Linked DNA regions of Homo sapiens. The protein of the gene in region 3 interacts with the protein of the main gene of each other region in a pairwise test. Each region holds a gene or a part of one and is shown on either strand. Other genes may lie near its edges.

Region 1 (10,880 bases), on a different chromosome or scaffold from region 3:
GCTCCTCTGTGCTGTCATGCCCCTTGCCCCCAGGCAGCGGGTCCTCCAGGACCACCACGTCCACCTCTCCATCTGCATACTTCCGAGCCAGTTCCTCTGGGCTCCCATAGAACTTCCCGTTGTACCACACCTGCTCCACGGCCCAGTGCCCAGCATCTGTGCTCCCATGATCCACGAGGAGCTCCAGCCCAGTGGGGTGCAGAAAGTAGCCTTCTACATAGCGCTGTATGATAAGCCAACTGCGGCGCTGGCCAGAAGCCACACCCCGGGGGGCCACATCGGTGAAGGCCAGGCATCTGTCATGGCAGTCTTGGAATGAGAAGCCTGTGGTATTGAGGAAGAACTGATGCAGGGGCTTGGTGGCTTCCTGCAGGGTGTGGTAGAGGAGGGCATACTCTGCTGTGGAGATGGGCCTCGATGCCCAGGAGGACTGGTACCCAGGCCTGGGGGACAGTGCTCGCATGTAGCAGGGCCCTGGCAGGGGCCCCACAGCAAACTCGGTGACATTGGGATGCTCCTGGTCACCAAAGAAGATGACGGCACGGGCTTCCCGCACAGGATGCCTTTCACCTTTATCCAGAAACCTCAGCACATGGTACTTCTTGGGCAGCAGCATCTCGATGAGAAACACGGTGTTCTTGGCCATGGTGGTGGTACTGGAGGGCTGCAGCCTCAGCTCCTTCTTGGACCAGAGGAAGCTGTGCACTGCCTTCAGCTCTTGGTTGCTTAGGTCTGAAAACACCCCTGCCTTCCTGGGCAGAGTCCCCGGGGAGGGCTCCGCCATGGCCGTCTGCAGCATCAGGATGGCAGCCACGGCCCAGCCCAGGGCCGGCATCTCTCGCTCCACGGCTCTGGAATGCAATAGAGGAGATGAACTTAGTTGTCTTATGGGCAGAGATGGGCTTCCCTCAGGTTAGGGCCATGGAATTTTCCCATGGACTGAGCTTCCTCCCCTTGCCCTGCCCCAAGCTGGAGGCTGTCCTGGGGCAGCTGGGGCCCCATGCATAGTCCCCAGCGCCGTCGGGCCGCTGCCTGTGCATCCATCCATTTATTTCTGCCCTCTCCTCACTCCTCTGTAAATGTCCTTCAGTCCTGCAGCCTTCCTTACTCAGGGGAACACCCTTGTTTTTGTGTATTATCTCAGCCAGGGGTGCCGTGAGTCACAGAGGCCAGGCTGGGCCCCTGCACATGCCCCCAGGTGCTTCTTGTGTCCTGGAGAAGAAGACACCTGTATTAACAGCAAAACTACATTTCTGACACAACGAAATACCTTTTAGGTAGACAGATTTTGAAATTTAGTGTAGAAATTCAAAGGTAGGCTCTAGAGTCAGGCTGTCTGAGTCAAGTCCCAGTGACTCATGCCACTAGGACTTGCTGTGTGGCCTTGGGCACGCTGCTTAAACTCTCTGGGCCTTCATGTTCTTAGTTTTAAAATGAAAATAATGACAACAGTGCTTAGCTCCTAGGGTTGTGGAGAGAAATCAATTAAACAGTAAATATAAAGTGTTTGTAACAATGTCTGCCATATGGGAAATACATGAGAAATGTTAGCTGCTCTTCTTGTTAAATACAGGCTATCGACACCAGCCCATTTAAAGTTTTACGCAATGTAGAGTGATTCAGGTGTGACTAGGCTGCAGACTGATGGCTTTGGGGGTGAGGTAGAGGTGCCCAGTCCTGCCTAGCCTTCTTTGTGCCCCATTCACCTCTCTTGTCCACCCAAGGCTACTAGGAGGGGACCTCAGGGAGGGTTTCATCTTAGGAAGATGCCTTTTCCTTTCTCAGGGAGGGTGGGTCAGGGTCTTCACCTCATAACCCCATTCCCCAAGCAGCTGTAAAATCCTGTGCTTGTAGCTGTGAGCCTCCTGCAGGGCTGGGAGACGTGGTGGCCACAGCTCTGTCTTCCCATGTGCTGTGTGCGGAGTCTCTGGGAGACTGTTACTCTTGCCTGTTGCGCTGTTGCTACAGATGCTGGCTGGAGCTGTCTCCCAGCCTTAGTTTCTCCAGACCCTAACTTGTCCTCCTAGGTGATGTGGGCCTCCCTGGAAGGCTGCCGTCACCGTGAAATTTCCCTACAGAAGCACTGCCTTTGCCACCTTGCACCCCCTTCCTCAAGGCTCTGGGTTGAGCTGGGAGCCCCGCTTCAGGATTCCTCCCTGTCTCAGCTGTGCTTTTCACTTCCTGCAAGCAGTGCCTGAGGCACAGACACTTGATTTATAAGGTGGATGCATGAGTGGGTTGGACTCTGAGAGATCCTTGTTTTCATATTTTCATAGGTAGTTGCCTTTTGCTCCCTAAATCAGAAGCCCTGGGGGTAAACCTGGAGAAAACTCGTTCTCCTGTGCAGACAGACAGGTAGCAGAGAGGGTTAATCCACTCCTGTCTCAGACCTCTGCCTGGCCCAGCCTCTTCCCAGGGGGCCCAGGCTGCCTGCAAGGGAGGCCCCGAGGATTTCACCTGGAAAGTCGGCGGCACAGGGTGTGAGGTGTAACTGAGGTGCAGCAGCTCCACTTTGGGTGTATCGTGGAGTGACCCACTGAGGAAACCTGACCATCATGAGCGCTTTTCATTTCTTGCTTTTGTTTTTGGAAAATGCATTTACACATCACATTTCCGAAGCACAAGCGTTGGGAACACAACCCATGTGTTAACTAGAGGCCCTGTTTTCCCGTGGCTTTTTTCCTCCAGAGAAGCTCAGCTGCACATTGTCCCTTCCCACCCGACTCTGGGCCAGTGTCACATCCTTTGCCACCTTTTGAGGTCAGCTGAAACCCCGCACTGCCGAGGAATGCTGTTTTTGGCCCCAACTAACATACTTCTCCACTAGTCCCCTTAGCACTTTGTATTTAATTTGTACACGATGGGCAGTTCTTGATTCATAGACAAATGAAAGGTGTTGGCTGGGCCTGTTCCATCACCCGAGGGCTCTCTAGCCCTGGAGGCCACGGTAAAGGCTGATCTGAGATGTCCTTCTCTCCCTTTCCCATGCCCCTCTCCCCGAGGGCTCTCCCCTTGCCCTCGTTTTGCTCCATGGTCATGGCCTCTCATGGGGATGTCCCTCTAGTTGCCTTGTCTTGCCCTCTGGTGCTGGCAGAAGACCCTGGAACCCACATGATCTTGGGCTCTCGGAGGCCCTGCTTACCTGGAGGGAGCAGGTGAGGCAGGGGCTGCAGGCGGAACCCAGAGCCAGCAGGAAGGATATGAGGTGAGTTCTTGTGTTCTCCTATTAAATATTGGCCAGGCCTCTTTTTTTTCTTCTTTAAATAGACTATTTTTTCTTTTTCCTGAGACAGTCTTGCTCTGTAGCCCAGGCTGGAGTGCAGTGATGCGATCTTGGCTCACTGCTACCTCTGCCTCCCAGGTTCAAGCAATTCTCCTGCCTCAGCCTCTGGAATAGTTGGGATTACAGGTGTGCACCACCATGCCCGGCTAATTTTTTGTTTTTAGTAGAGATGGTGTTTCACCGTGTTGGTCAGGCTGGTCTTGAATTCCTGACCTCAAGTGGTCCACCTGCCTCAGCCTCCCAAAGTGCTGGGATTACAGGCATGAGCCACCAGGCCTGGCCCCAAATAGACTTCTTATTAGACTTAAATAAATAAATAAATAAATATATATATATATATATATATATATATATATATATAGTCAGGATCTCACTATGTTGCCCAGGCTGGTCTTGAACTCCTGGGCTCAAGTGATCCTCCTGCGTTGGCCTCCCAAAGTGCTGGGATTATAGTAGACTTTTTTTTTAATAGACTTTTAAAAATAGACTTTAATAGATTTCTTAATAGACTTTATAAAGTCTGTTAAAAGTCTTTAAAAAGTCTATTAAAAGTCTTTTAACAAACTTTATAAAGTCTATTAAAGTCTTTTAAATAGGAGTCTTTTAAAGAGGAATTTTAGGTTCATAGCAAAATTGAGCGAAAGGTACTGAGAGTTTCTGTATACTCACAGCCCCTACACACGCAGCCTCCCCACTATCAATATCCACACCAGAGCCATACATTTGTGGCTGATGAACCTGCACATCACTCTCACCCAGAGCCCACAGTTTACATCAGGACTCACTCTTGCTGCTGCATATTCTATGGGTTGGACAAACGGACAATGACATGGATCCACCATTAGAATATCACACAGAATAGTTCCACCTCCCCCAAAATCTTCTGTGCTCCACCTCTTCCTCCGAAACCCTAGCAATCACTGCTCTTTTTATTGTCTCCATAGTTTTGCCTTTTCCAGAACGTCCTGTATTTGGAATCTTACAGTCTGCAGCCTTTTCAGATTGGCTTCTTTTGCTTGGCAGTGTGCATTTAGGGTACCTCCATGTCCTTTCACGGCTGGGTCTCCTTTTTTACAACCTCTTATACCCACGTTTCTTTTTGCTTTTCCAGGAAGGAGAAAGATGTGGAAGAGACCTTTGCTTTCCCCAGGACAAACCTCTGTCCCCATGTGCAGTGGCAGTGGGGGTGGTGGCTGGTGAGACCTCCAGGCAGGAACAGGAAGCAAGCCCTCTCCCTGCTCACCCTCCTCTCTGAGCTTTCCCCACTCCACCCTGGCCGGCTGTTGCCTGCCACCAAGCACCCGGGCACCTTCTGTGATGTGCTGGGCTCCCGCCCTCACTTCCTGGCCCTCCTCCCTCTGTGTCCTGTTTCTTCTGCCCCTCACTCTGTGCCCTCCTTCCACTGCTTTTCTGTCCTCCAGGTCAGCCCCTTCTTGACTCTCCCGAATACCCATCAGAACGCACCTGTGTGCTCTGCTCCCAGTTCGCTCTGCTTCCAGCCTTTGCCCTTAAGCTGATCTCTGACTCCTTCTTGAAGTCAATCAGACCCCGCCCTGCAGGGAGGGACAAGGTGAGGCCTGAGCTGGCCTAGGAGGGGCCTATGGCTTGGGAGGTGCCTCTGTGGGCAGCTACAGTGGCGAGAGTGGGTTTGAGGAAGCTGGCTGTGCAGCACACTTGTCCTGAGTCTGTTTCCAGACAAGTGCCGCCTTCCACAAGAATTTGCCTTGGCTTCTCTGTGACGAGCCATGCAATGCCACGATCTGTTAATTTAGGTGGCATATTTTAGAGGCAGAGATAAGGACAAGGGGCCATTTCCTAGCCGGTAGTCTTACCTGAAGCTGACAGATGGACCAGGGCAGGGGCTGATAGAGGCTGGCACCCACAGCAAAACAGAGAATTCAACCGCTCCTAGAACAAGACACCAGAGGCAGAACCGTTTGGGAGGAGCAGCCACTCAAGACGAGTTGCAAACTTTGGCGGCTTTTTAACGATCTTTGAGACCCTGACCAGATTCAGAAAGGAGGAAGGACTTGGCTGGGAGAAAGCTGGCCAGGGTAGCTAAGGCTATGGCACAGAGCGGAGAGGGGAGAGGACACTGGGGCAGGTAGTGCCCATGCAGTGGGCGGACAGTGCTAACGCCCACTTAGTCAGGTTGAGAAGGGCGAACGTGGTGACCGGGGTAACTCCTAGTTGGAAAGGAAAGAATAGAGTCAGGAAAAGTTCGTGGCTCAGGAGTGCCAAGGGGTCATCATCCCCCATTACCAAGGTTTGGTTGCTCAGGGATTGCACACCGCTTTGTGGTTATAGGGGTTTTGTATTTCTCATCATCATCCTTCCTGCTGCCCGCAATGCAAGCCATTTCAGTGTGCACTGGCAGCTAGATGAAGGAAGGTGAACACACTTAGTCAACTTGAAGCTTGCTTGCAATTCCAGAAGGTCTTTGGTGTTTCTGAGGAAGGGGATTTGCCTTCCATGTTAAAATGATGATTGATACAAAGACAATGAATGCTAACGTCTTTCACCCTCAGTGTTCAAGAGGACTGTGAGTTATGTATTCTCAGTTATGGGCTCACCAACTCCGCAGAGAATTGGGGGGATTTGGATTAGAAGAGAGTTTCAGGAACAACCTGATTTTGAGGACTACAATCTGTTTCCATTCCACAAAGGAAACTGCGACAAAGTTAATGGAGTGAGGATGGATCGAGAAAAGAGACTTGCAAAGATTTAAAGGGAAAGGGGCCACATGCACATGATGGAGTTAGACCCTTTCACACACGGAAACGGACTCGAAAGGGACCAAAGACATACATGTAAGAGCTAAAACTGTAAAACTCTTAAAAAGAAAACATAGGAGTAAATCTGCTTGACTTTACATCTAATTCTTGGATGTGACCTCAAAGCACAAATAACCAAAGAAAAAAAAATAGATAAATTGACATCATCAGTATTAAAAGACTTTTATGCTTCAAAGGACACCCACAGGAAAATGAAAAGACAAAGCATAGAATGGGAGAAAATATTCACAGATTATATATCTGATAAGAAAATTATATCTAGAATGTAAGAAGAACTCTTCCAATTCCATAATAAGAGGCAAATAATCCAATTAAAAATGAGCCAAAGATCTGAATAGATATTCCCCTCACGAAGATACACAAATGGCCAATATGCACATGGAAAGCTGTTCAATGTCATTAGTCATCAGGGGATGCAAATCAAAACCACCAGGAGATACCACTTTATATCCACTAGGATGGCTAGAATTCAAAAGCAAGGTAATAACAGGTGGGGCCAGGAGGCAGAGAAACTGGAAGCCTCACAGGCAGTTCATGGTGAGATGACGCAGCCACTTCGGAAAACTGTCTGGCTGTTCCTCAAATGACTTAACGTTGTTATCATATAACCCAGCAATCCCACTCCTGGGTATATGCTCAAGAGAAAGGAAAGCCTATGTCCATGGGGAAACCTGTACCAGAGTGTTTACTGCAGTGTTATTCACAATAGCCAAACAGTGGAGACGACTCATATGTCTCTGCATTGATAAATGAGTCAACAAAATGTGGTCTATCCACTCAATGGAACATCATTCAGTCATAAAAAGGAAGGAATCACTGTTACATGACACAATGTGGATGAACCTTAAAACCACTACGGCAAATGAAAGAAGCCAGTCACAAAAGACCACATTATTCCATTTATATGAAACGTGTGGGGTAGGTAAATCTCTCAAGCAGATGAGAAGCACATTAGTGGTTGCTTAGGGCTGGGGTGCGATGGAGGGATGGGGTGAGAGCTAATGCTTATGGGGTTTCTTTTTGAGGTGATTAAAAAGTTCTAAAATTGAAGGTGATGGCTGCATGTACCTGTGAATGTACTAAAATGCATTGAATTATACACTTTAAATGGGTGAATTGTAAGGTGTGTCTCAATAAAGCTGTTTTCAAAAAGTGACAGGACTAATATCTAGAATACACAAGGAGCTCTTGCAAATCGGTCAGAAAGAGGCAGCAGTCCCCATGGAAACCTGGTAAAGAATCCCAAGGGTAACTTGCAGAAGAGGCACCCCAAAGGGCTAAAGAGCACATGGAAAGATGCTCAAATGTAGTGGTTACTAGAAAAATGCAAAGCATTCAACAACGAGATATAATTTTTCATGGGAAAGCTGGATGATGCCAAGTGTTGACAGAGATGTGGGGAAACGGGGACCTTATGTGTGGTTGTGGGAAGGGGTTATTGATGGCACAGCCATTCTGGAGGGCACTTTGCAGGGTGTGGGCAAATGAGAGAATTGCATGCTCTCCAGACTCAGGAACTCTGTCTCTTGGAATATATGTCAAAGAGGTTCTCACCCAGGCCTAGAGGTGGGATGCAGACACAAGTGGCTGTGAGGCTGGGGAGCTGGAGGCCATCGGGGTGCCACCCCCAGGAGAGTGGTCACTGCACACCATGGGGTGTTGTGCAGTTGGCGGGTGCAAAGGCATGGATGTCCACACAGCCACTCCTGAGAAGGGATCTCAGGATCATGGAAGACGCAGGATGAGTGATAGCACGATGCCATTACACAACAGGAAACACGTACACACCAAGCCACCCGCTTTCAAGAGTGGATACACATTAGAATGGATGTGAGGGCGGGGGTGGGAGTGGGAATACATACATACACACGTGAGAAAGACAAGAGAGAGGACTTGTATGGGCCAGTGATGACGACATCCATGCACTGAGGTAGAATTAATTCAGTTCTGCAATGGACGTCCATAAATAAATAAAAGAAAGGCCTGGGAGACAGACTGAGTGACTACAGGTCCTCACACCAGGGTAGATGTGGCTGAGGACAGGAACCACCACAGGTCCCGCACCTGGAGGATGCAGTGAGGGCAGGGAGGAACACTGCGTGTAGGCAGGGAGCTGAAGCACACCAGAAAGAATTGCATTTTTTATGTAACGGGGCCCATAACATGTACATAGAAGGATTAATATTACAAGGTGGCACAGAGTAAGTGCAACACATTGATGCCCAAGGGCCTGTCCTGCAAGGGCTTGGAAGGAGATTCCCCTCAAGACTGCAAGCCCCCAAGTCCTGGGACTCTATCCCCTCTGCAGTAGCCTCCATGGCTGCTGTCACAGAGGACCACACACAGGGGCTTAAAGTAACAGAAATGGGTTGTCTCACAGTTCTGGAGGCCTAAAGTGTGAAATCAAGGTGTAGGCAGGGCCATGCTCCCTTTGGAGGCTCAAGAAGAGGGTCCTTCCTCTCCTCTTCCAGCTTCTGTGTTGCCAGCAATCCTTGGTGTCCCTCAGTGCCTTGGCTTGTGGCCATGTCACTCCAATCTCTGTCCTCACATGGCGTCCTCCTTGTCTCAGTACCTCTATTTTCAAGAACACCAGTGATTGTATTGAGGGCCTACCCTACTCCAGTATGACATCATCCTAACTAATTCATCTGCAACGACCCTATTTCCAAATAAGACCATATTCTGAGGTTCCAGGGAGGACATGAATTTTTAGGGGGATGCTATGCAACCCAGCACACCTTCTTTACCTGCCTCATTGCAGAGAGCATGGTCCTTGGCCAGTGAGTGAATTCCAAGCCCTGTGCCCTGGGGGGCTGCTGCCCCGAGGATCCACAAGGTAGAGCCTGTGTGGGGTTTTGCGATACACGAGGGACTTAGGAGGAAGAGGACACACTGGGCAGGGGCGGGGGTGGGAGTGGGAGTGTGAGTGGGGGTAGGAGCAGAGTCCTGAACTGAGATGTGGTGTGTTTCCCAACATGGGAAAAGGTCAGGGCTGATGCGGGGAGTGGGGTGCGGTTTGTGTCGCTGTGCTGAGGAAGGGCAGGTGGTGTGTCTGGAAGGAGGAGGTAGAGTGAGGAACCTCCCTATGCGCTTCTAGAGAAGTGTGGGGGTGAAGAGGGGCTTGTGGGAATCCTATAGAGACAGAGGAGATAGAGAAGCCCTCTAGAGAGGCACTGGGAAAGCTGAGGCGAACAGAATCCTTGTGCAGAAAAGCTGGTAAGTCTGTTGTTATATACATATATATATTTGTAGAGACGGGGTCATGCTGTGTTGCCCACGCTGGTCTTGAACTCCTGGCCTCAAGTGATCCTCCTGCCTTGGCCTCCCAGAGTGCCGGGATTACAGGCATGAGTGACCATGTCTGGCCAAGGCCATTGTTTCTGCTCATGTTTGTGTGCACTGTGGCTGGGGAACTTGAGATGTCACACTTGAAATTTGGGGTCTGTTGCCTTGCCACCTCTCTTCCTGCTCCCTGGCTGGGGCTGGCCCCTCCATACTGAAGGTGACCTTGGTTTCTGAGGTGTGGTTCCTCGCTTGTGGAATTAATGATTGCTGACAGTTAGAGATAGCACTTGGGCAAAGACCGTATCCTGTCAGTTGTTCGCTGCTTGCCTTTCTTAAGGAGGTCCAGGCCTAAGGAGGGGCAGCGCTATATACAAAGGTGGAGCTAGGAAGCCAGAGGTCACAGCTCACCATGTCCTGTGGCTAAATCTTGATATTTTGCTTTCAGAAAGTCACAACCTGTCAGAGCTAATTTGAGAGGATCTAGAGAGTGGGATTGTTTCCACGAAACCACAGAGAAGAAACAGAGCAACCCGCGCCTGCACCAGGACCTACTGGGGGTACACCAGGGAAGCTCATTCGATTAGATCTTTATGTGAATGAAGCCAACATCATAGCTTTTGTCCCTGATTAGGGAAGGTGGGTTTGTAAAAAAGAAAATTCCACCATTTTCTGAGGCAGGGCCATTGGTCATAAGGGGCCCTGGTGAGGTCCTGATGGCTTGGGCAGCCCCACCCAGAGAGGGGAGAACGTTCATCTCCAGGTGCTAGCCCTGCTTCTGCCACTGGCTGGTGGGCTTATACTTGACAGTCCTTAATTCATTCAACAAATGTTTATGGAGCACTCATTCTGCACCAGGGAGACACAGCAACGAACAAACAAAACCAAAGCCTCTATGGGGCTCATATTTTAGTGAAGACTATCCAACAGCGAAGCTTGTGAGCCTTCACAGCAGACCTCCTCACTGGGACAGCTGATGACAGGGGCTGGCCCTGGGCTGGCATCTGGGAACTTAACTTTCAGGATCCTGCCCCGCTGTGCCGGCCTGCTGACTGTTTTTACAGACAATGTGATTAGTGAACACCTGCTTTCCTATTGGGAATCTGGAATCTTGTTAGTTGTGGTGGGCAGAGAGTGTGCCTACGTGACCAGCCCCAACCTCTGCCCCAGCTCTGAGCTTCTACTTCCCTGGGGAGATGCAGGGCGCAGGGTATGCTCTGTGCAGCCTTCATGGGAGGGAGAGCTCAGCGAGTCTGTGCCCTGACCCCTCCAGACCCCGCTGTGTCCTTGCTGTGTGTTGGCCGTGGGTATAACTGTCTGCTTAGTCTGGTGAGTCCTAGTGAAGCTCTGACAGCAGAGGTGCCATGAGGTGTCACGGGTGTTCAGAGAGGTGTCCTGCAGGCGTTGGCGGCAAGTGGTGACCCAGTGTGTTCCAGTGGGGCACATGCTCAGGGGAAAACAGAGCAGGGGCATGTGGTGGGGGCAGGGCCTGACCTTTCAGAAAGGGGACTCCTCTTCTC
Region 2 (10,984 bases), on a different chromosome or scaffold from region 3:
AAAAAACACCCAAAACCCCACAAAACAACGAACCATCTTGGGTAAAGTCAAGCGGTGGAAATTCAGTGTTCTGAGAATTATTATATCTTAAACACAAATACAAGACATAATTTTATGAAGATGGTCACAAATCAGCAAAACATATTCATATCCCCGTCCTTCCTCTTTCACACAGCTAAACCCCAAATCAAGGGGCTTTAGGCATTTCCTATTCAGGTATAGTTGAAATAGAAGATTGTGCATGTGGTGGTGAGTATATTTTAAAATGATACACTCTCTGGAGCTAAATCCACAGAAGATTCTATTGCTCTGTCCCCACACTTCTGGATGTAGTGTGGAAGTATGAGGGGCTGAAATCCCTGCAGCTGTGGCTCCTGGGCTGAGAGTCCCCCAGGCTGCCGGTAAAGTAGATTTTCCTCCATGTAGCTGAGAAAATCTCAAAGCAGAGTGGTTACCCAGGCACAGATCTGTTCTGACTGGATAACAAGAGGGACTATGATGTGGACTTGGCCGTTTAGATTAAAATGCATCGTAGGCTCTGGGAACAAGCACACATCAGTAGTAAAGGCTGTTTAAACCTTTGGGGACAGCCTTATGTTTAGATTACGTTAATTCATAAATATTATACTAAATACCACTTAAATTGGACTTAAATGACTTCAAAGATAATGCATTATAATATGGCTATCCAGAGAGCACTAGTCTTTATATCTCCCAGTAACTCAGTCTTTGCTGCCTCCCATCCAGCTAGACAGGACCAAAGTTATGAATGGATTGCTGATTTCTTCATGTGTGATCCACTGTTTATGTGAGTGTTAACAAGCATGGGTATGTGTACATATATGTGTCTTCAGACACTGCCTCTTTTTGTTCTACAGGAAATGAAAAGAAGAAAAGAGAAACAAATTAAAAATGAGAGAAAGGAAGAATTGGACTACTGGGTGACCTGTTCCCTTCTCCAGGGTAGAAAAATTCTACAAAAAGGGGTAAAATTGGCCCTCAGCTCATTTCTGCTGCTACCCGAGGAATTCATCTCTTTTCTCTTTAATCAATAGTACAATGTCTTTCTCTTTGGAGCCTGGAAAAACAATCTTTCCCAAAGTGCTCTAATAGGGGAGAAAAGAAGACTCTGAGTTGGTCAGGAGAGTTTGCACTAAACTCGGTTTTCTTCCTTGGGTGTTGTTTCTTTGAATTTTAATTCTGGGCTTTTTTCTTCCTTTCTCTCTCTGCCTAGCACCCAGATACCCCTCTCCCCAATTGCTTTCTGGCCTCCAGGGGGTAAATTTACCTTTACAGTAATCACCCCAGTCCACAACTGCTCTTTGCTGCCTCCCCAGCCCAACAGCCTTTCTCTGATATGGCTGGGTTTGCTCCACAACACCCACCCACTCCCTCCTCCACAGACTCCCAATTTGACTGGAGTAATTGCCTTTTAAGGTGCACTCTACGCATGGCAGGTATTCCATTAACCCTTAGAACTCCTTCCTTCTTTAGATATCTGAAATGGCAGGTGGCCAACAAATGGAGACCCACCTGAAACCTCCTGTGTTTAATTTAGTTTTTACTTCTTTTCCTTTTCCTTTTTTTTTTTTTGCCACTAACATAAACATGACATCCAAACTGGAGGCCAGTGTCCTGTGTCTCTCAATTTGATCCTGTATGATTCATTAGAAGTTAGAAATTAAGGAAGGGGAGAGCAAGAGGCACAAATATGCCCTGAAACCAGGCTTAACAAAGGCATGATTCTATCCCTAACCTTATGTTGTCAATTTAGAGATGGGGAAATCTAGAAACCAAATGCAACACTCATTCCTCAAGCCTCATCATGCTTTCTGACTTAACAGTAATTAATCACCAATGGCAAGCGAGTAATTTTTTAAGGTGGCCGGAGGCTTATTTTATCAGGATTAGCTAATAAATCAGGCTCCATCACCGAAGAAGGAGTTTAAACTCTTCTAGGACTGAATAAACCAGACCTCGGAAACGGTCTCATTTATTCAGCTCTCTGAGAGCTTGCAAGCACTGTTAGGGACATTGTGGTCCAACCTCGATTATAAAAATCAGAAGGATGGAGAGGTAGGAAGTTTCACTGGGAAAAATATATGCTCAGGCTCTGAAGGGTGAGCTGCGACAACGAGGAACCCAGTATGCCGGAGCTAGTGGGCCTGCTTGCCACTGACTGAGACAGTTTAGGGGAGAAATTATTTAGAAAATGAAGTTTTGTTTGTCCTAGGAATTCTGGCCAGATTTTATATATCGATATCTATATCTATATATAAAATATATGTAATATATGTATTACGTATATATTATATATATAATCATAACCTTCTCTACCTCCCTAATGCAAATGATGAAAATTCTACTTCTTTGCTATTATATGAGAGAGTCCAAATTACATCAGCAACAAAGTGATGATATCAGGGATTGTAGAAAAGAAACCAAGGAATATTGTTAAAGTTTATCTTCATTTGAAATGAAGAAGCAAATAAAGTGCTTTAATCCAGATGCCATATGAAGCCCAGCTCCTCATAACTGTCTTTTGCCTCTAGTGAGTTCTGATTTTTTTAACTTTAAAATCTTAAATCACCATAAAAACTGATCATTAAGATGAGCAGAAGACTTCCCTACCTATGCTTTCAAAATTTTTATTATTACTATTTTTTACAATGAGGACATTCAGAATAACAAAGGTTTGATACAAACCTTGATTAGCTTCTAGGAAGCTTGATTGGAAGGGGAAAAACTACAAAGATATGGTTGACTTGAGAGGGAGGGGGGGAAAAAGAAAGTGTTTTCTTTTTTTCTTCGAATATTATTTTGAAGGCTGCCTCCCCGTTCCACCTTTCCAATCTCTCTTTTGAACAGACAGACATTTTCTCCATATTGGATAAAGGTTGCCTTCTCTCTCCATTACAGCCCCCACCCTCACCCCACCCCAACAAACCCAGTATATTTCCATTCTGCTGTGTTTTTGTGTTACTCAACATGCCATTAACTTTAAGATTTACTCCTCAGCAGGCAAGCTGGAAGATACTAAAGCCAATAAAAACTGCTCTCTGGGACTCCAACTATGAAGAGTTTGGAGCTCTGTTTAGTATTCGAACGAAGGGAGGGCTGGAGAAAGAGGGTGGTTGTGATAGTGAAAATCGCTGCTGCTTAGAGAGCCAGACAGCTCTGCGCTCTGCACCTAATGTGCTGGAGGATCAGCTGTGTCCATAGCCCATTTGTGGCCAAGGATGAGGCTGCTCTCTATGTGGGGGTGGGTGTGCGTGTGTTTTCATCTTTAAAACCACCAGCTGTAACAGCATCTTCGGCGGCTCTCCACACTACTGTTTATTAAAAACGGAACATCCATACACATCCCCTACAACTTCCTTAGCCCCGTGCTCCTTCCCTGCCTGGCGATCAATCTCTCTCAGAAAGCATTTAACTTGCCCACATAGATCCAGCACCGATTCATTCCCGCTGCACATCCTATATATTACTGTTAGGAAGCGGAGCACTGGGCTAATTTCGTCACCCACCAGCCACCCACACACATTCTACAACTGAACACGTTTGGGGCTCTGCTTTAAAGATAATAAAACAAGGAGAAAACAGGCAGGCTGCGGACAATTCCCATGACCACTTTCCTAAAAAGTTGCTGTGTTTTAATTCTTTGATTATTCTGTCTCCCCCTCCCCCAAGCACTCACTGGCAATGATCGCTTCAAGGGAGAAATAATGTACTATAAAGCTCTCTGCATGGTGAGTTTGGGATAAATTAGGGTACACCTTTCAAAATGCAAATCTCGCACACACATATTTTTTTCCCAAAGCCCCGCTTTCCTGGGAAGGGGACTATCCAGGCTTGCCAGACCCCCCACTCCACCCAGGGGATGGCTGGTTCCTTGCTAATTCTTGCCTTAGGTTTTATCACTGGTTCCTTCAAACATCCAACCCCCCCACCCCCAACACACACCACCATTCACACCACAATCAGATTATTGAGGCACACAGCTCGACAGGGAGAGTTTACTGTTACATTTAAATAAAAATTTCTCTTTGAATTTGTCACCTCTCTCCCTTTTAGACGGCTGCGCTCCTGCTACTCTAGCCCGGAGCAAAGGATGAGGAGACCACCTCCTTTAGTATTTTCAGCACCACGGCGATGGACAGCACCCTCGGTCCTCGGCCGGCCAGGAGCCCGCGAGTCCGTCCGCTCAGCGTCCTGGGCTCGACCGGTGCAGCCTTCCCCATCCCCATCTTTCAGGTCGCTGTACCCAAAAATCCAAGCCCCGTCTCCTCGATCCCCTCTCTCTTTCTCTTCATCGGCGCCCGCTGCTCTCTCCATGGCATCGTTCCTATCAGCACCTCGCCCAAAACCCAGTCTTGCCCCAGCGAACAGCTCCCCACGCACCCCAGCTCTGGTCTCCGCTGCCCGAGCGCCTCCCTCCACCGCGCCCGCCCGAGGCTTCCTCTCGCTTAGTCCGCCGCTCGTCAGTCGCCGGCCGGCCGGTCGGCCCGCCAGCCCGCTCCTGCTCCCCGGCAAAGTTGGGAGGGAAAGGTGTACTCACCTTTGTGCATGCCTGTGAACCTGTCCTTCAGAACCGTAAGCTCGTAGATTTTGCCAAACTCCTCGAAGAGGGGCTTGAGGTCCTTCTCATCCAGGTTGCGGGGGATCTGCCCAATGAACAGCTTGATGGCATCGTGGTCCTTCATGGGAATGGTCGACGGGTTCCCCGGGCTGTGGCTTAATCCGTTCATGTGCCCGGCACTGCCCGGGCTGCTGCCGAGCCCGTTGGTACTGAGGCTTGCGTTGTCAGCCTGTCCGTTTGCTAACGTGGCCATCTTTATATACATAGAGAAAATCTTCTTTCCTTTTATTCTTTCTCGCTCACACTCTCTCGCTCCTCTCTCTCGCTCGCTCGCGCTCACACACGCACACGCATACACACACTCGGGTTCTCTCCCCCTCGGTTTCTCTACACCTCGCTCTCCGCTCGCTCTCTGCTCTCTCTCTTTCTCCTCTTCTCTCGCTCGCTCGCGCTCGCGCTCTCTCTCTGCTCTCCCCCCTCTCTCTCTCCCTCCCTCCCTCTCCTCTCTCTCTCCCTCTCTCTCTCCCTCTCTCTCTCCCTCTCTCCTCTCTCTCTCGGTCTGATCTGATTTTTTTTTTCTTTTTTTCTTTTTTTTTTTTTTTTTTTTTTTTTTACATTGAACAGACAGGATCTCTGTCCTTTCCGTTTAAACAGGCTGGACCGGTTCAAGTTCCCAGCCAGACCAGGGGTGGGGGTGGCGAGTGTGCGCGCGCGGAGGAGGGCGCGGGGGGCCGGGAATGGGCGCGCTGTGGGGGCCCGCGCCACGGCGGGCGGCGGCCGGGGGCAGGGCGGCGTGGGGCGGCGGCCACCGCGCCTCCCCCGTCGGCGGCCCCGCGCCGTGGCGATGGTACAGTCCGAGACGGCCCCCGGCTATAAATAGCGCCAGGCGCATGGCTCTTCGGGAGGCGCTGAGATTCCGGGCCCGGCGGCCGCGGGGAGCGGGTGTCCGTGAGGAGCCGGGCAGCCGGCCTCCTCTCTTTGCCTTTTGGGGGTTCTTTTTGTAATAGCAGCAGGTGCAACTTTTTGTATTTTAAAAATAGTGATTTTTATTTTCGTGTGGGTATGTAGGGGGGCTTTATCCACCAAGCTATGCTCTATTAGGGCGCCAGGCGGGCGAAGCAAAGGCAGGGATGGCGGGCGGGGCGGCGGCGGAGGTGGAATGGGCGCTTTTTTCTTCCATCTGGCTTTATTTATTTATTTAGACTAGAAAAGCGAGCCGGCTTGGAGGGAGTCCGCCCGGGGATCCGAGCGCGCATTCATCAGTGTCGAGAGAAAAAAAGCTACATAAATATATATTATGTGGATAAATCTATAGACAAGAGCTCTCTCGCGCGCGCTCTCTCCCTGTCTCTCTGTGTGTGTCTTTCTCTGTTTTTTTTTCCTCCTCGCACCCCCAACCTGCCAGAGCAGCCCCACATCTTCCTCCCGCCCGGCATCTACCGCCACCCAAGCCACCTGCCAGGATGGGGCTGGGAGCTGTCGGGCCGCGCCGGGGGGCAGAGGGACGGGGAGTAGAGACTCGGGGTCCGACCCCCGCCCCAACCCGCTTCCGAAGGCGGAAGGTGGGGGTCCCCGTCCCGGGCGGCCTCCCCCGCCCCGGAGAGCGCGGCTGGTCCCCCGGTGGCTGGCGGGAGGAAGGTAGGAGTCGGGCGCCCCTGCCCGCTCGCCCGCCGGAGGGGGAGGAAGGCGCTGGGCGCGGTGGCCGGTGAGCCAGCGCGGGGGATGGCTTGATTTGCCCTCGTCTGCTTTACGGGTTCAAATAGAATATATTTTTTTAATCACCATCAAAAGAATAAAGCCCCTGAATCGCTATCTGGGTTGCCGCCGGACCGAGACTCGCGCGGCGTGCGCTGCCCCCGCGGGTTTCGTTTTCGGCACCTACAGCTCCCGAGGTGCGAGGCTGAGTCGTTCCTGCCGTGGGGACCGGGGGTCGAGCCGCCCGGTCCGGACCCCGCCGGACTCCCCGCCAGGCCCACTGGGGCTGGCATCTCGGCTGCGCGGGAAAGGGAGTGGCAGGCGCGGAGCCGGGAGCAGGGTCCGAGCGGCCCCGCCTGTAGGGGTGAATACTGGTGGTGAACTTGGCTGGGGTAGCAGATTTTCACGTTAATGATATTTACCTGCACCCCGTCCTCTCTCATGTTTGCTTTTTCAGGGCAGCCTCTTCGCTTCAGAAGCCTGGCAAATTGAAATAACGCGCCCGCTCCCCCGCGGGCTGCGGGGCTGGGGAGCTGGGGCGGCGGGGCTGAGCGGCTGGCCTAACCCCCGCCGGCCCTCGGCTAGCCACTTTCGGGTTTCAGGGTTTCTCTTTTCTTGCCCTCGGATTACATTACGTTACTAGAGGATATGTCTGCAATTTTAATTAAAGAAATGAGACCCCAGCTGCCTGCAAACCCAGGCCAACCCCATTTGGTACAAGCACAATACGGAGCTCTCCAGCGCCGGAGGAGGCCCGGAGGCCCGAGGTTCGCAGCCCCAGGCCCCGAGTCCGCTCAGGACGCCTCTCTCTGAGGATCCCGGGCCCAAACCAAAGAGCAAGTATGATTTTTAGAACTGTGGAACTTCATCCTTTCATTTTAGCTTCTCCTGCCTTTGCTTGCCGGAATCGGGTGTAAGTATGGTTAATTCGTCACTTGGTTTACCGGGTTTACGTTATCCGGTGTTGTATGCTGGTCTAAGAATCGACCAAGTAGATGACTCGAACAGAAACTCACATATAGAGCCTTTGCCATGTGGTGGTTGTGTATTTGGTGTGCCTTTGAAGTGCCCTGATAAGGGGGGCAAGTCCCTGCTAAGCACTTGGAGAGTTTGTGTGTGTGGTTTGGCCGTGTGTGCCTGCTTGTGTGGATGCAGCGTGGGTCTCTGCACGGACCCTGCGTGTATCCACACTGCATATATGTGTGTGTCCATACCAGGTTGAGACCTCCTCCTTCTGGTCCCCTAGGACACATCAGCAGTGGCTATTAACTCTGTCCAAGATATCTCTTCCAACATCATCCTGTGGTGCTGGTGCATGGCACCCAGGATCCTACAGCTGAGTGGCATGTATTTTCTGCTATCACAGGGGAGTTTAGGAGAGTAAATTCCTGCTCGAGGTCTGTTTTTCTCTCCTTGCCTCTCAACCCCTGAAAGCAAAGCCCGGACATCGGAAAGGGAAAGGGGCCAGCTAAGGGCAGCTGGAAAAGAAGGGAACTGCTCAGGGGAGAGTCACTGAAGTTCACCCTCCTCTTCCTGCCACCACCCAAGGCACCCCTAGGTCCAAGTAAATTATTCACAGGGGGTTAATTACTCATGTTATTATTAATAATAGTCAATACATAAATAATAGCAATCGTTGGGCAGGAGTGAGCCAGGGAGTGGGCTTGTTAATGAAAGGGGGCACTGGCTATTTCAGATGCCATGAAGACTCCTCCATTCTGTGCAGTGCCAGTTCCCTCCAGGACTGCTCCCCTGCCCTGTGCACCACGGCCCCTCCTGGTGTCTCTTCATCCGTGGACTCAAAGCTGTGGAGAGCTGCTCCTTCCTTAGAGATCCCCACCCTCCCCCTTCTCCCACCTGATGATGGCTTATTTTGGATTTGGGTTATCTCACCTTAGCAGGTGGCACAACCCTTACCTCTCATCTTTCTGACAGATATATGGCGAAATGTCCTCCCTCCCAGCTCCTGCCCCAGGACACTAAGTCCTGTCTAACTGAGCTACCCAGTGTAAACAGCAGCAGAAGCAGCTTCTGTTTAGGCATCAGTCTCTTAAAGGTGCAGATCTGGATCTCTTAGGCTCCTACCTCTCCTCCATAGCAGAGTGTTGGGGATAAAATAACACAGACAGGTGTCTCAGACTAATGCAATAAAAGAGCAGGACCCTTGAGAAAATAGTATGAAACATGATTAGGTTGGCTCTTTGGTATCCTCACCCTTGATATTCTAGGAAGACTTGAGTTAAAATTTTTTTTAACCTTAGATCATCAAAGAGAAATGTAATTAGAGAAAGATGGGCAAAGTATTACTCACTGTGACATTTAAGCAGATTTAACTTTCCCTCCAAGTGCCACTTCATGGCCACAATTATTTCACCCACTGAGAGAGAGGGAGAAGGCTAGCAAATGGAAGTGGGGCTGGGAACAATTGCTTCTCATTTTCTCTCTGGGCTTGGTGTTTATATGTTGTTGCTGATTCATCTTTGGGGGTGTTAGAAAGTCCTGTGGGGGATTAGGTTCAGGTGGGCTAGCTACTCAGGCCTTGCCAATACCTCCTGTTCCTTCGCTTCCCTTTGCTTCTCTCGTTCCTCAAGGAGGGGAGGGAGCCCTCACTGGGCTCAGCTTCCCTCCAGCTGAGCCACTTGTCACTGGTCACCCTCTTCTCTCTGACACCCACTGAACTAGCAGCCCTGGCCATGGCCGCACAACCTCAGGCCTGCTTTGGCTCTCCTGCCTGTAAATCTTCTCTTTCCCCCTCAATTGTGAACTCATGGAGGGCAAGGACCCAGTAATCTGGTCTCTCCTCCTCCTCTGCAACCCCTTCTGGTAGCACAGTAGGTGCTTAAGATATAGTTTGTAGATACCGGTGGCTAATCTGACTTGGGGAGTGGTGTCAACACTATATTCATATGGGCTCTAAGGAAGGGGAGCTGCAGGGCCCCAGGCGGACACTTTTGAACAGGTAATTTAGAAGACCCGCAGCAGTTCAGCATCCTGGGTCTGCACTGCTTTACTTGGAAGCATCACCACTCAGTCATTCTTGCATTCATCCAGTCTTTCTGACCTCCCTCTGGAAGCAGCCAAGAAAGGACAAGGCTGCAAAGATCTCACCGTCTAGTTAGACCAAAGTCATACCCAGTGAAAAGCCCCAGAACAGCAAATGGCAACAGATGGTTAAATGTCTTCCAGGCCTGAGGAGTTCCACATAGGAGAAAATAGAAAACAATCCAAGTTGCCTGTGATGATCTGTGATGGGGGTAGTAGCCTTAAGGAAAGAGGCAGTGAAGAAGGCAGGATGCAGAGGGGGCCAGATTGGTGGTACGCTGGGTGATGCTGGGGATTTAAAACTGGAAGGGAGAAAAGCAGGGATTACTCCAAGGTTATGTTGAGACCATGCTGAAAACAGAGCTGAGATATACACTGGGCTCCCTAACAGACCAGACCTCAAATTAAACATCTCTATGGAGCGACTGCTCTGCCCAGACCTGCAGAGGGCAGTGAGGGCAGGCTGGAGGAACGGAGACTCCCCTGTACTCTGTATAGGGCTCATGTGCTGTTTGGGCAAAGAAACGGACTCAAAGAGCCAAATGGCCACAAAGGGTATGATCCAACTGAAGGGCAAAGTGAAAGGAGCAGGCTGTGTGGGCTACGGACCCCCAGAGAAGGTGGAGCTTGTGTGGGCAGTGGCACTCAGGGAAGGCCTTCTGGAGGAGCAGGCCCTGCTGGCCCTGTAGGAAGGGGTGTTTCAGCTCAGGAAGAGGGGAGAGAGGTGGCCTTCAGGTTGAAGTGGTGTTTGGAGTTGCAAGGCCTGGAGTGAGGAGTGGGCTCTGAGTTCTTGCATGACACACAGAAGGAGGAGGCTCCCATGTGGTTATCAGTTTGGTAGGCAAGATGGGGCTTTGCAGGCAGCCTCAGCAGTATGGTCTTCTCCACAAACCCAGTGTGTCTCTGACCTGGAATACTTCAGGAAAGTTCAGTGATATAAAGAACAATAATTGGGGCAAGAAAGGAAGAGAAAAACAATCCCTACTGCCTTTTAGCTAATATTGGCAGCCTCCTGCTACTCAAGTAGACAATTGAAGGACCTCCTGTCCTGTTGTGAGCCCACAGCAGGTCTGGGCATGAAGGAAACCCACTGGAGGGAGAACGCTGTGTGTTTGGGAAACCCAGGGGCTCCCTAGAAGGACTGAGCTGTCTCCAGGTCTCAGACAGGTGCCAGGGCTGGCAGAAGAGGGGTCTCAGAGCTGTTTTTTCTTGCTGGCTGAGCCTCAGGGCCATACTGCCTCGGTCTTGTGAGGGGAGCCCTGGCTCTGGCAGGGAATGGTTTTGGGAGTCCGTGGTCAGCTCCTGTTCCAGGCTTTCATGCTAACCCTGGGGGTTCGCCTCACTTGTGCTGAGGACAGGTAGGAAATGTAGAGGCAGTGTGAGAGGCGGAATGAAGGGACCCCAGAGTCCCAGACAGGGGCATCCTGTGTGATGTGGCCAGGAGAGCCAGAACTCAGCAGTGGGGACCTGACTCATCACTCTCCTGGGCGTCAGCTTTCTCTTCTATCAAGTGGAGACTGGGGTCCCTTTCTTCCACCTTCCTTTCCTTCCTCATATCACATCCAAAAAAGATGAGACAGTGGCACGTCTGTGAGGCTGACTAATCAGTTTTCATGTAAAAATTATTAAGGTGACAAGAGTGGGGATTGAGGGTCTAAATGGGCTATA
Region 3 (10,297 bases):
GTCCTTCTTTGCATGCCCTCCCTAGGCCGGGTTTCTGCACGGCTGAGGCTGTCAGGCCCAGGAGAACTCCTGCACCCCCTCCGCGTTGGACGCCCTGGGCTGGGCCTGGAGCTGCCGGCGCCCACGGGGGAAGGGCCTGGCGGGGGTAGGATTGGGGGTGGGCCCGGGGGTGGGCCCCGCGGGCCCTGAGGAATTAGCACTCACCCCTTCCACGTCCTCAGCTCGAGTCGCTCCCAGCTCTTCTCCCCAGCTAAGCTCTCGGAGGAAGCAGGACACTCTTTCACCACTCAAGCCCCTTCTCTCTTTATGCCCCACGTGCCCCCGCCCACGCTGTCAGAAACACCCGCCTAGCGCCCGCTACTTTTGAAGTACATAAGGGATACCTTTTGCTGCCCGAGCATCTTTCCCTTCTTGGATAAAGAAGTTTACTTTGAGCGCTCCCTACGCTAAACTGACAACCAGTTGTTAAACTCCTTTTGCTCTCTAGGTGTTGCCTCTTCCTAATCTGTTTGTGCGTCGAAAGCTTCAGAGTTGGCTAAAATTATGTCTTCATCCGCTATTTGATGTGTGTCTTCTGAACGCTTTTTCTCCTGTCTTGCTGTTGCTTTTTACCTGAAGCTCAATCTAATGAATGAATTCCATCTTCCAACCACTTAATTCTGGTTTCCTTCCTTTCCAATGAAGAGTGATGACTCAGCATTTGCATTCCTTTCTGAATAGTGTGGCACTCCTTTTCTCTGCATCTTTTTTTTTTTTTTTAAGTCTGAATACTTTTTAATTAAATGTTTAAATTGGGCACCCTAATTTCCCGGCCTCTCCAGGTCTAGCACTCCTACCTTGAGTACCAAGGAGTCAGATCGCTGCTTTGTTTCTCTTGCCTCTCCTGGTATTGATAGGATCATAGTCCACTTGGCTCTGCTCTCTGATGGGGAAATTGCTTTTTAGGGAATAGATGAAGGTGGAGGGGCACTCGAGAAGTTTGACTAGCTTCACATCTCTTCACTCCTACCAAAGAAAGGATGCTCAGTAAAGAAGATAGATGTTCAGTATTGATAGAGATTTTTTTGGTGTGGCCTTGTACAGGAATAAATGTGTTCTCTAACGTCTCACTGAAGTATCCGTCCCGTTTTGAGAATCTGAGGCCTACTGAAGCACATCCAATGCTTCAATGAAACGCCTGCTTAATAGAACGTCTTTGTGTTTTGTGTTGTCTTCCATTTCTGCCTTCTCTCCCTAGAAGAAAGAATTGGGACACACTTGAAATTTGTCCTTCAGGCCGGGCGCAGTGGCTCACGCCTGTAATCCCAGCACTTTGGGAGGCCGAGGTGGGCGGATCACGAGGTCAAGAGATCGAGACCTTCCTGGCCAACACGGTGAAACTCCGTCTCTACAAAAAACACAAAAATTAGCTGGGCGTGGTGGCGCGCGCCTGTAGTCCCTGCTACTTGGGAGGCTGAGGCAGGAGAATCACTTGAACCCAGGAGGCAGAGGTTGCAGTGAGCCGAGATTGCACCACTGCACTCCAGACTGGTGACAGAGCGAGAGTTCGTCTAAACAATTAAAAAAAAAATTTTATCCTTCAACATCTGTTGAAGCCAAGACTTGGTGTTGAGTTACAATGTGTACTTTGATATAAGCATCTGGGAAAGCTAGGCTTAAAGACTAGCTAACATGTATTTAACAAAGATAAAAGTTACATTGTATCTAAAAATCTGAAGTATCATCACACACTGAATGATTGATAAATACTCATGGCAGGGGTCTCATTTACTGTATCTGTTCCTTACCAAGAGGAATCTCTGGTTTTGTAGTGCTAAAGAATGTGCTTTTTTGATGTCTTTTATTTATCTTTGCATCTGCCTTGCCTTCATCCCTATCAGAGTTTCTCCAGGGGAATAATAAGCTAACTTCTTTGTCACTTATTTCCTTCCTCTACCTTCTCTAATCTCTTGTTCTTTCTTTGAAACAGTTAAGTTGTCTATGTTTACAGTTCTCTAAAACTGTGACATGTTCATATGAATAAATAAACATCTTAACTCTGTTGTTTTGTATGTCAGTACGTGTTTACTATTCTGTCTTCCTTTTTCCTTCTCCCACCCTTTTCCATAGGGCCTTTTTTTTTTTTTAAGAGAAGGACTACTACATCTTCCTAGGTCTTACCCCCACAGCACTTAGTTCACTGCCTGGAACATAAGAGGTACTCAGAATTTCTACAGTGATTATACTTCTTTCATTAAATTAGTATTAAGTTCTTTTTTAAAAGTCCTGGTTGAACTAAGATTGTAGGCAGACATTACTGTCACATGTGGTGCAGTCTGTTGACTTTTATATATTTTTTAAAACCTTCAAATGTAAAATCTTGAGATAAAAGCAAATGTTTAACAATTGGGATTTTTATTAGAGTTTAATACAAATAATGCATAGTTTTTCTAAGTGTACGTTTTACATATTCTCAAAGGGTTCTATTAGATATAAGTAACATGATGAAAACTGAACATGATTTTAGACGTTGATATCTAGTAGGGTTTTTTGTTTATGGAGATCTTATATTTTACATTGTGAGCTATGGATTAGGTTTTTCAAGTGGCCAGTATGTTTTAAAAGAATGTGTTCTTAACAAAGCTTATCTTAAATTGTTTCCTTAAGATGCCTGTGTGTTACTAGTGAGGTTTTTTTCCTGCAGACACACACAAGCTAAGACATATGGTTCTATCTTCAGAAAACAATATGGTGTTTAGAGCCTAGGTAGGTCTTTAAATATTCATTACCTACAGTATTACTAATTTATTTGATGGTATTTAAAGTGGCAAGAATTGCTTTGATGTTGAGCCTAAATTTCTATTTGTCATATAGTTGCTTTAAAGGTCTGTTTTCTGATGTTCTTCATTCTCATTTGACATTTATTTTGGGGTATTATGCATTGAGTAACTTGTGATCTAAAAAAACAAACAAGATCATGCTGTGTAATACTGGTGTTGGAACTGGACTGTCTGACACCTGCCTTGTGGGACACACATTTCAGGCTTGGGTTGTGTGTATCTTTGTAGTGCAGTGATTTGATCCATGGTATATCTGAATCTACAATATGACACTAAATTGTAATAGTGTTTTATTGTAGCTTATTTTATTTTCTTCATCTATCGGATGCACCAAAATTGCTAGGAATTCGTGTAATACCATGTTACACAATCCCTTCCTTTAAGGCTATTCTTTCTTCCTGGAAATAAGCTAATGATTTAGAGTATAATCTGAACATCTAAGAACAAAGCAGAAGAAAATTCTATAAACTATTACAAAATTGACTGGCTATACCATGGATTTGGCTATACTGTGGCTATAATCAAGCCCCTCATTCAAATTCAACTTAATCATATTCTTTGTTTCTTTAAAGTAAGAGAGAGAGAGTGAGTGTGTGTGTGTGTGTGTGTGTGTGAGAATATCTCATATATATAGTTGGTCAATTTAGTTGTACCTCCTGCAGCTATCTTCCATCATGCCTCCTTCCTAAAATGAAATACTGTACCGACAAATTGAACAATTAATTAGAGATCTATTGAAGGATATTATTGCAAAATCTCTTCTTGTATAGGACTTGTCAAGAACAAAAGCAAAACTATTATGGAAATTTAGCTATAGTTTTTTGTGTGAAAGTGCTGATAATTTCAGCCTTGGTAGGGCTACTCTTTTCAGAGTGAGAGCACATTCAGTGTTGAAAAAGTGTCATTAGTCTTCTGAAAGGCATGATATTCTTAACTTAAAATTCTGCCCAGTCGGACACAGGAAGTAGTTTGGCAATGTGAATTTCTGCCTACTGTGAAACTGCTAAGTTTTTAGCCCCAAATTGGATTTTAACCCTGATATTAGAGATAAAGGTGTCATTTTCAGTTTTTAATGCTTCAGTTCCTACAGTTCCTGTTCTTAGAAGACAAAATAGACTCTAAGGTATGCCTCTTCTGAATTTTTTCGTTGAGTTAAAAATCATTTTGGAATTTCCTAAGTGTTTACTCTTTGAATTGACCTCTCAATACAAAAATTAGAGCCATTTATCTTTTTTCTGTTATTTTGTGTATGTTCTTTAGGTAGCAATTATATATTTAAAGACTTGGATCTTTAGCTTGACTATTTCATAACCAGAGCAGAAAGAAAGTGAAGTGTAGAAGCTATAATTTGGAACGAATAAAGATGTCATTTCAATGAACTACCAAGAGATGATCTTACTAGGTCAGGCATTGAACTTTGTCTTAAATATTTTTGTTAGTATTTACTTTGGGACAGATTATTTTATGATACTGTAAAAGTACTTAAAATAGAATAGTACAGTATTTTAAAAGCTATACAATACGTCTCTCAAGTGTTATGATGCACGAAGGCAAATGTAAATGAAGAGGCAATCTGAAATTTGGGTACAAGAACTCAGTAAAAGAAAAGGCAGTCTGAAATTTGGGTAAAGTTTAGGTGAAATTATATAGTGAATCATGGCCTTTTAATCCTGGTAAATTAAGATATTGTATGTGTTGTTATGGAAGGCCTTTCATGTTAGTTTTTGAAATTTAGTTTGCTGCTTAACATTTAACTTTTAGTGGAGATAATTTGAAAAATAGGAAACCTTAATACTGGATTTTTAAATAAATATTTCATGACATTCTAAACTTAGATATTAACGTTTTCATCTTTGCTTTCAGTGCTAGAAATGTAAATTAATATATCTAAATATGCCTCTAGAAATTCTTCAAGATCTGTAACTGGCGGGAAATAGGTTGACTTAGAATAAAGATTTTTTTTTTTTTTTCAGATGGAGTTTCGCTCTTGTTGCCCAGGCTGGAGTGCCATGGCGCGATCTCAGCCCACTGCAACCTCCACCTCCCGGGTTCAAGTGATTCTCCTGCCTCAGCCTCCCCCAAGTAGCTGGGATTACAGGTGCCCGCCACCATGCCTGGCTAATTTTTTGTGTTTTTAGTAGAGACGGGGTTTCACCATGTTGGCCAGGCTGGTCTTGAACTCCTGACCTCAAGTGATCCACCTGCCTCGGCTTCCCAGAGTGTTAGGATTACAGGTGTGAGCCACCACACCTGGTGGAATAAAGATCTTATTAAGCAGTGACGGCTTTTTTTGTGACTATTAGATATAGAAGGTAACTAATTCCAATACAGTTTTTCCTGAAGAAATTGATGTTTAAACAGTAATGGAAATTTAAAACTATTTAAATCATTTAAAATGTGTTATATTAAAATGATAATTCTATTTTAATTTTGTTATTAGCTAGCTTCAATATGTGAAAACCAGTTTTATCCATCCTTCTTTTCTCTTAGAAGTGAGCTAACTAGCCCTTTAGGCAAGGAGCATAATGTTTAGAAGCTCAAGATCACTTGTTCGTTTCTTTCTTTCTTTCTTTCTTTCTTTCTTTCTTTCTTTCTTTCTTTCTTTCTTTCTTTCTCTCTTTCTCTCTGTCTCTCTCTCTTTCTCTCTTTCTTTTTTATTTATTTTTTTGAGATGGAGTCTCACTCTGTCGCCCAGGTTGGAGTGCAATGGTGCAATCTCGGCTCACTGCAACCTCTGCCTCCCAGGTTCAAGCGATTCTCCTGCCTCGGCCTCCCGAGTAGCTGGGATTATAGGTGCGCGCCACCATGCCCGGCTAATTTTTGTATTTTTTGTGGAGACAGGGTTTCACCATGTTGGTCAGGCTGGTCTCAAACTCCTGACCTCATGATCCGCCTGCCATAGCCTCCCAAAGTGCTGGGATTACAGGCGTGAGCCACCATGCCTGGTCACTTGTTCATTTTTCTTACAGATAGGTCTACTCTGTACAAAAAGAAATCATTTCAGAGATACAGGCTCACAAACCCCTATGAGTTAAGAAGGGGCAAGCAGCCTATCGCTGGCTCATAACCCAATAACCTTTTAGTCCTGCTGGAAAAAGTATGTCACTACATTGGCCTGCTGATGGATCAGCTCCTTAATTACGTGGAAAAGGTGGCATAGTGGACGTAAAACAGTTTGTCACTTGTTTAGTCCTCTAGTTAGGTAATATTGGATGTGTGTTTCAATTTTAGAGCAGGTACACTAAGATTATTAGTACTCATTGCAATAAAATTCTTAACTGGAAAATCGCTACTAATTCTTAATTGGATCTTTTAAGTTTTTTACTTAACCTAAGCTTTCTCAGTCTATTTTTCCCTTTGAGTATTCCATCTTAAAGCATGTTGTGTATTTAATGTGGCAGCTATGTTGCAAGTCTTATTTTGGTCTTAATACTCAGTTTCCAGATGTAATATATTACAAGTAGAAAAAGAAATCTACTTTCCAGAATGAACTTTGTTAAATTTTACAGATATTGTTTGGTTTATGAGGTTGTTCATAACAGATGCAAATTTGAGGAATTATGTGTAGAATACCAGAAAGACTTTAGTGTTTGGCAATTTATTTAGATAAATTAAGATAAATCCATAGTACAAGACATAAACCAAGGTGGTCCTCTCTGTGTGATGAAGTAGCATTTTTTTCTTTTCTTTTTTAAACTTTCCTGTATTTAAAATCTTTTACACAAAACACATTCAATTGTAATTAGGAAAAAAAACCCAAATTTTTAAGTGTCCATAGTCAAAAGTATGCCTGGATTTGTCTTAGTTTTTCTCTGAATTTCTTAAGAAATCTTTGTATTAGCTTTTTTATCTACATTAAGATATATTTTGTTGGCTGGGCATGGTGGCTCACTCCTGTAATCCCAGCACTTTGGGAGACTCAGGCAGGTGGATCACTTGAGGTTAGGAGTTTGAGACCAGCCAGGCCAACATGGTGAAACCCCGTCTCTACTAAAAATACAAAAATTAGCCGGGCGTGGTGGTGCACGCCTGTAGTCCCAGCTACCTGGGAGGCTGAGGCAGGAGAATCGCTTGAACCTGGGAGGCGGAGGTTGCAGTGAGCTGAGATCATGCCACTGCACTCCAGCCTGGGTGACAGAGTGAGACTCCATCTCAAAAAAATACATATATATTTTGTTGATTCTGATGCATTTTAGACTAGGAAATTTTATATTTTACCCTGCTCTCCTAAAATGAAACAGTGAAGACATCATTGCAAACAACCTTACTCAGCCAAAAACAAAACAACAAAAACCCTCCACCCTCTGTATGTTTTACTATAACTTTAATTCTGTTCTTTGTTCATGTAATTGCTTTGGTTGGGAATCTAAGATAAACTCACTTTATGTTTAATATCCTATTACAATCAGATGTTTTAATGAATTAGTATTTGTTGTATGTGTGTGTGTGTTATAAATTATTTTTAATTAGAAATTGTAGTTATCTTGAGACCAGTTTAAAATTTTAACAATTAGAATAAGATGAGAAAATGATATCCAGGGTACAGAATAATAATGCCATTGGGGTATACAAGATCACATTGATTTGTTCTTTAAATGTCTTTCAGAGTGGTATTTTAGTGGCCTAAGAACAATTGTTGCTTTCCTAAATAAGGGTTAATCTTACTTTCATAGGATCAGGTTTAATTGGAGAAATTTTGTTGAAAACAGAGGAAGTTAAAATGAAATAAAAGGTGGCCGGGCGCAGTGGCTCACGCTTGTAATTCCAGCACTTTGGGAGGCCAAGGCGGACAGATCACCTGAGGTCAGGAGTTCAAGACCAGCCTGACCAATACGATGAAACCCTGTCTCTACTAAGAATACAAAAATTAGCCAGGCATGGTGGCATGCGCCTGTAATCCCAGCTACTTGGGAGGCTGAGACAGGAAAATCGTTTGAATCTGGGAGGCGGAAGTTGCAGTGAGCTGAGATCATGCCATTGCACTCCAGCCTGGGCAACAAGAGCAAAACTCCATCTAAAAAAAAAAGAAAGAAAGAAAGAAAGAAAGAAAAGGTGATGAATTAGATGATAACACATTAGAGCCAGAGCTAAAGGAAAAATTGCTGATAACGTATTTTTTTCTTGTGCAGATACGTAGGTAACCTTTCCAGAGATGTGACAGAAGTCCTTATACTTCAGTTGTTCAGTCAGATTGGACCCTGTAAAAGCTGTAAAATGATAACAGAGGTAAGATCTTCCCAGTTCCATGTGCTGACAATTAGCATGATGGGTTGATTAGCATGATTTTAAAATTTCATTGTAAGCCTCAAGTTATTCTGGTGGAGAGATTTGTGTTGTGTTGACTTATTACTTTGATTTGGCTGACAAACTAGGCTTAGAATGGAGTTTTATTTAAGAGGGCAAAGTTTCCGTGCTGTTAAGCTCAAACGGTCATTCTTCATGGTGTGGTTATCTTGAAGTGATTCTGCTTTCAGAACATTATTAGAGCTCATTTCAGAATGGTGAAAAATTGGAAAGTATTTCATACAATTCCAATAAGAATGTTAACGATTTAGACAGCATGTGTTCATGTGCGAGAACACGAAGTTATTATGTGTGTAGTGTGCAGCACCGTTCGTCTCGTGTGTCTGTAGCAAATACTTACCTTTTTATACTTTCCTGCTAAGACTGTAGCAGCACCCAATTAGTCATGTTTTAGGCTTTTCTTCCTTGTGTTTTTGTTCATTGATCAGCTTTCTTTTTTTTTTTTGGACTATTTCCTATGTACTAGATACTGCAGTAAGTGCTAGAGATACACTGGTGAATAAAGATAGTTCCTTGGCCCAGAGAATTTTACAGTTTAGTAGGGAGACAAAGGAGTTAGCAGGCACTTAGGAAGTAGGATAATAAATGCTCTAGAAGCAGACAACTTAAAGTGCTGTGGGAGCAAATGTGTATCCAGTGCAGCCTTAGGTCAGTGAGCGGCTTCTTGGAGGACTCACTGCCTAGGCGGAAACCTTGAAAGGATAGTAGTACATACTGGCTAGAAAGGAATTGAGGGAAGAAGGGATTCCAAATAAAGGGAACTTTGATCCAGGTTGGTAGGGAGAGCAGGAGTGCTTGAGACAGAGAGGGAAAAATAGAACCCGTAGCATGGTTGTAGTTAAAATGGAATTAGTCGTAAGAGATGGCAGGAGTTTATGGAAAGGGCTAGAAACTGTGCTAAAGAGTTTGTTTTATCCTGAAACGGAGAACTGTTAAAAACCTTTAAAGTGCATTGGCCTTTTGATTGTCTTTCCCAAGTAATGACAATCATCATTTTGTTCTGGTGTATTATATTTTTCCTTCCTGCCTTTAATTATTTATTTGTGCTTTCATCGATCAAAAATTTCCTTTGCACTAGGCACTATACAAGGTACTGGAGATATAATGGAGAGACAGCCAAATGAGTTTCCCAAGCAAATAGGGATGTAAGCCATGAAGAGAATAAAACAGAGTTCTGTGATGATTGGAGGGTTGGTGCTATATAGGCTAGGTGATGAGAGATGTCACCTCTTTGAGCTGAGATGAATAACAAGATGGTGCTATCTATGGTAAGAGCTGGAGGCAGAGGAAACAGCAAATACAAGTCTTGAGTTGGTAATGAACTTGTGTTTGTGGAATCAAAGACCGATGGCTAGAGTCTGGTGAGGGATGGAGGGGAGTTAAGGGAAATGAGTCTAACAGCAGGATTCAGAATCACAGGACATTATGGTCCATGACATAGTTTAGGTTTTACTCTGATTGCTGTGGCAGACCAGTGGAGGGGCTTAAGCAGGGGGATGAGGTGCCAAGATTTGCATATTTAAGCTTACTACTCTATGTAGAGAATGACTGTTTTATGGAGAATAGATTGTAGCGGGCAAGAGCAGAAGGAGAAAAACCATCTGGATTTACTTCACTAGTCTAGGTAAGAGATGATGGAGGCTTATTCTCGAAAGTGCTAGCCGAAGTCAAGATAAGGACAGAGGTTGATAGATTTGGAATATATTTTGGAGGTAGAATTGATAGGACTGGGTTGGCTGTGGGACATAGGGAAAGGAAGAAATCAGGAAATACCCTAAGATTCATGTTAATGCAGTTGTATAGTTGGTAATGCTATTTATTTGCTAAAGTGGGGGTGACCTGATGGATGTCACCATGGGGAGTGGTGGGAATCAGAAATTGTGTTTTGGATGTTAGATTTAAGACATGAATTAGACATCAAAGTGGACGTTAGATTAGGCAGTTGGATAAAGTAGTTTGCAACTCTAGAGAGACCGGTGCTGAAGCTTGCAGTGGTATTTGAATCCATGAAGCCATGGGACTAGATGAGTTCACAGAGAGAGAATGATGGTAAAGAAGAGCACAGAGGCCGTGAGGTCTGAGCCCTGGACAAGCTCAACATTTAGAGTTTGAGTAAGGGAAGAAAGATCCTACAGTGAGGAAACAGGAAAACCAGAGTGTGGTAGGAGACAGAA

The links.
Region 1: the proteins of TIAL1 (region 3) and AOC1 interact in binary tests that used the Homo sapiens proteins (3 or more experiments, as listed by UniProt).
Region 2: the proteins of TIAL1 (region 3) and CELF4 interact in binary tests that used the Homo sapiens proteins (3 or more experiments, as listed by UniProt).

What each region holds. Positions count from the first base shown.
Region 1 is NC_000007.14:150,846,426-150,857,305, reverse strand, and holds the start of AOC1 (diamine oxidase [copper-containing] isoform 2 precursor), read right to left. Parts: upstream 4,790-10,880; 5' UTR 4,748-4,789; intron 3,203-4,747; exon of another isoform or gene 3,143-3,202; intron 852-3,142; 5' UTR 836-851; coding exon 1-835. UniProt on the Homo sapiens protein: Catalyzes the oxidative deamination of primary amines to the corresponding aldehydes with the concomitant production of hydrogen peroxide and ammonia.
Region 2 is NC_000018.10:37,560,798-37,571,781, forward strand, and holds the start of CELF4 (CUGBP Elav-like family member 4), read right to left. Parts: upstream 5,002-10,984; 5' UTR 4,845-5,001; coding exon 4,559-4,844; intron 1-4,558. UniProt on the Homo sapiens protein: RNA-binding protein implicated in the regulation of pre-mRNA alternative splicing. Mediates exon inclusion and/or exclusion in pre-mRNA that are subject to tissue-specific and developmentally regulated alternative splicing.
Region 3 is NC_000010.11:119,585,900-119,596,196, reverse strand, and holds part of TIAL1 (nucleolysin TIAR), read left to right. Parts: intron 1-204; exon of another isoform or gene 205-633; intron 634-2,107; exon of another isoform or gene 2,108-2,197; intron 2,198-2,677; exon of another isoform or gene 2,678-2,745; intron 2,746-4,079; exon of another isoform or gene 4,080-4,221; intron 4,222-7,948; coding exon 7,949-8,045; intron 8,046-10,297. UniProt on the Homo sapiens protein: RNA-binding protein involved in alternative pre-RNA splicing and in cytoplasmic stress granules formation. Shows a preference for uridine-rich RNAs.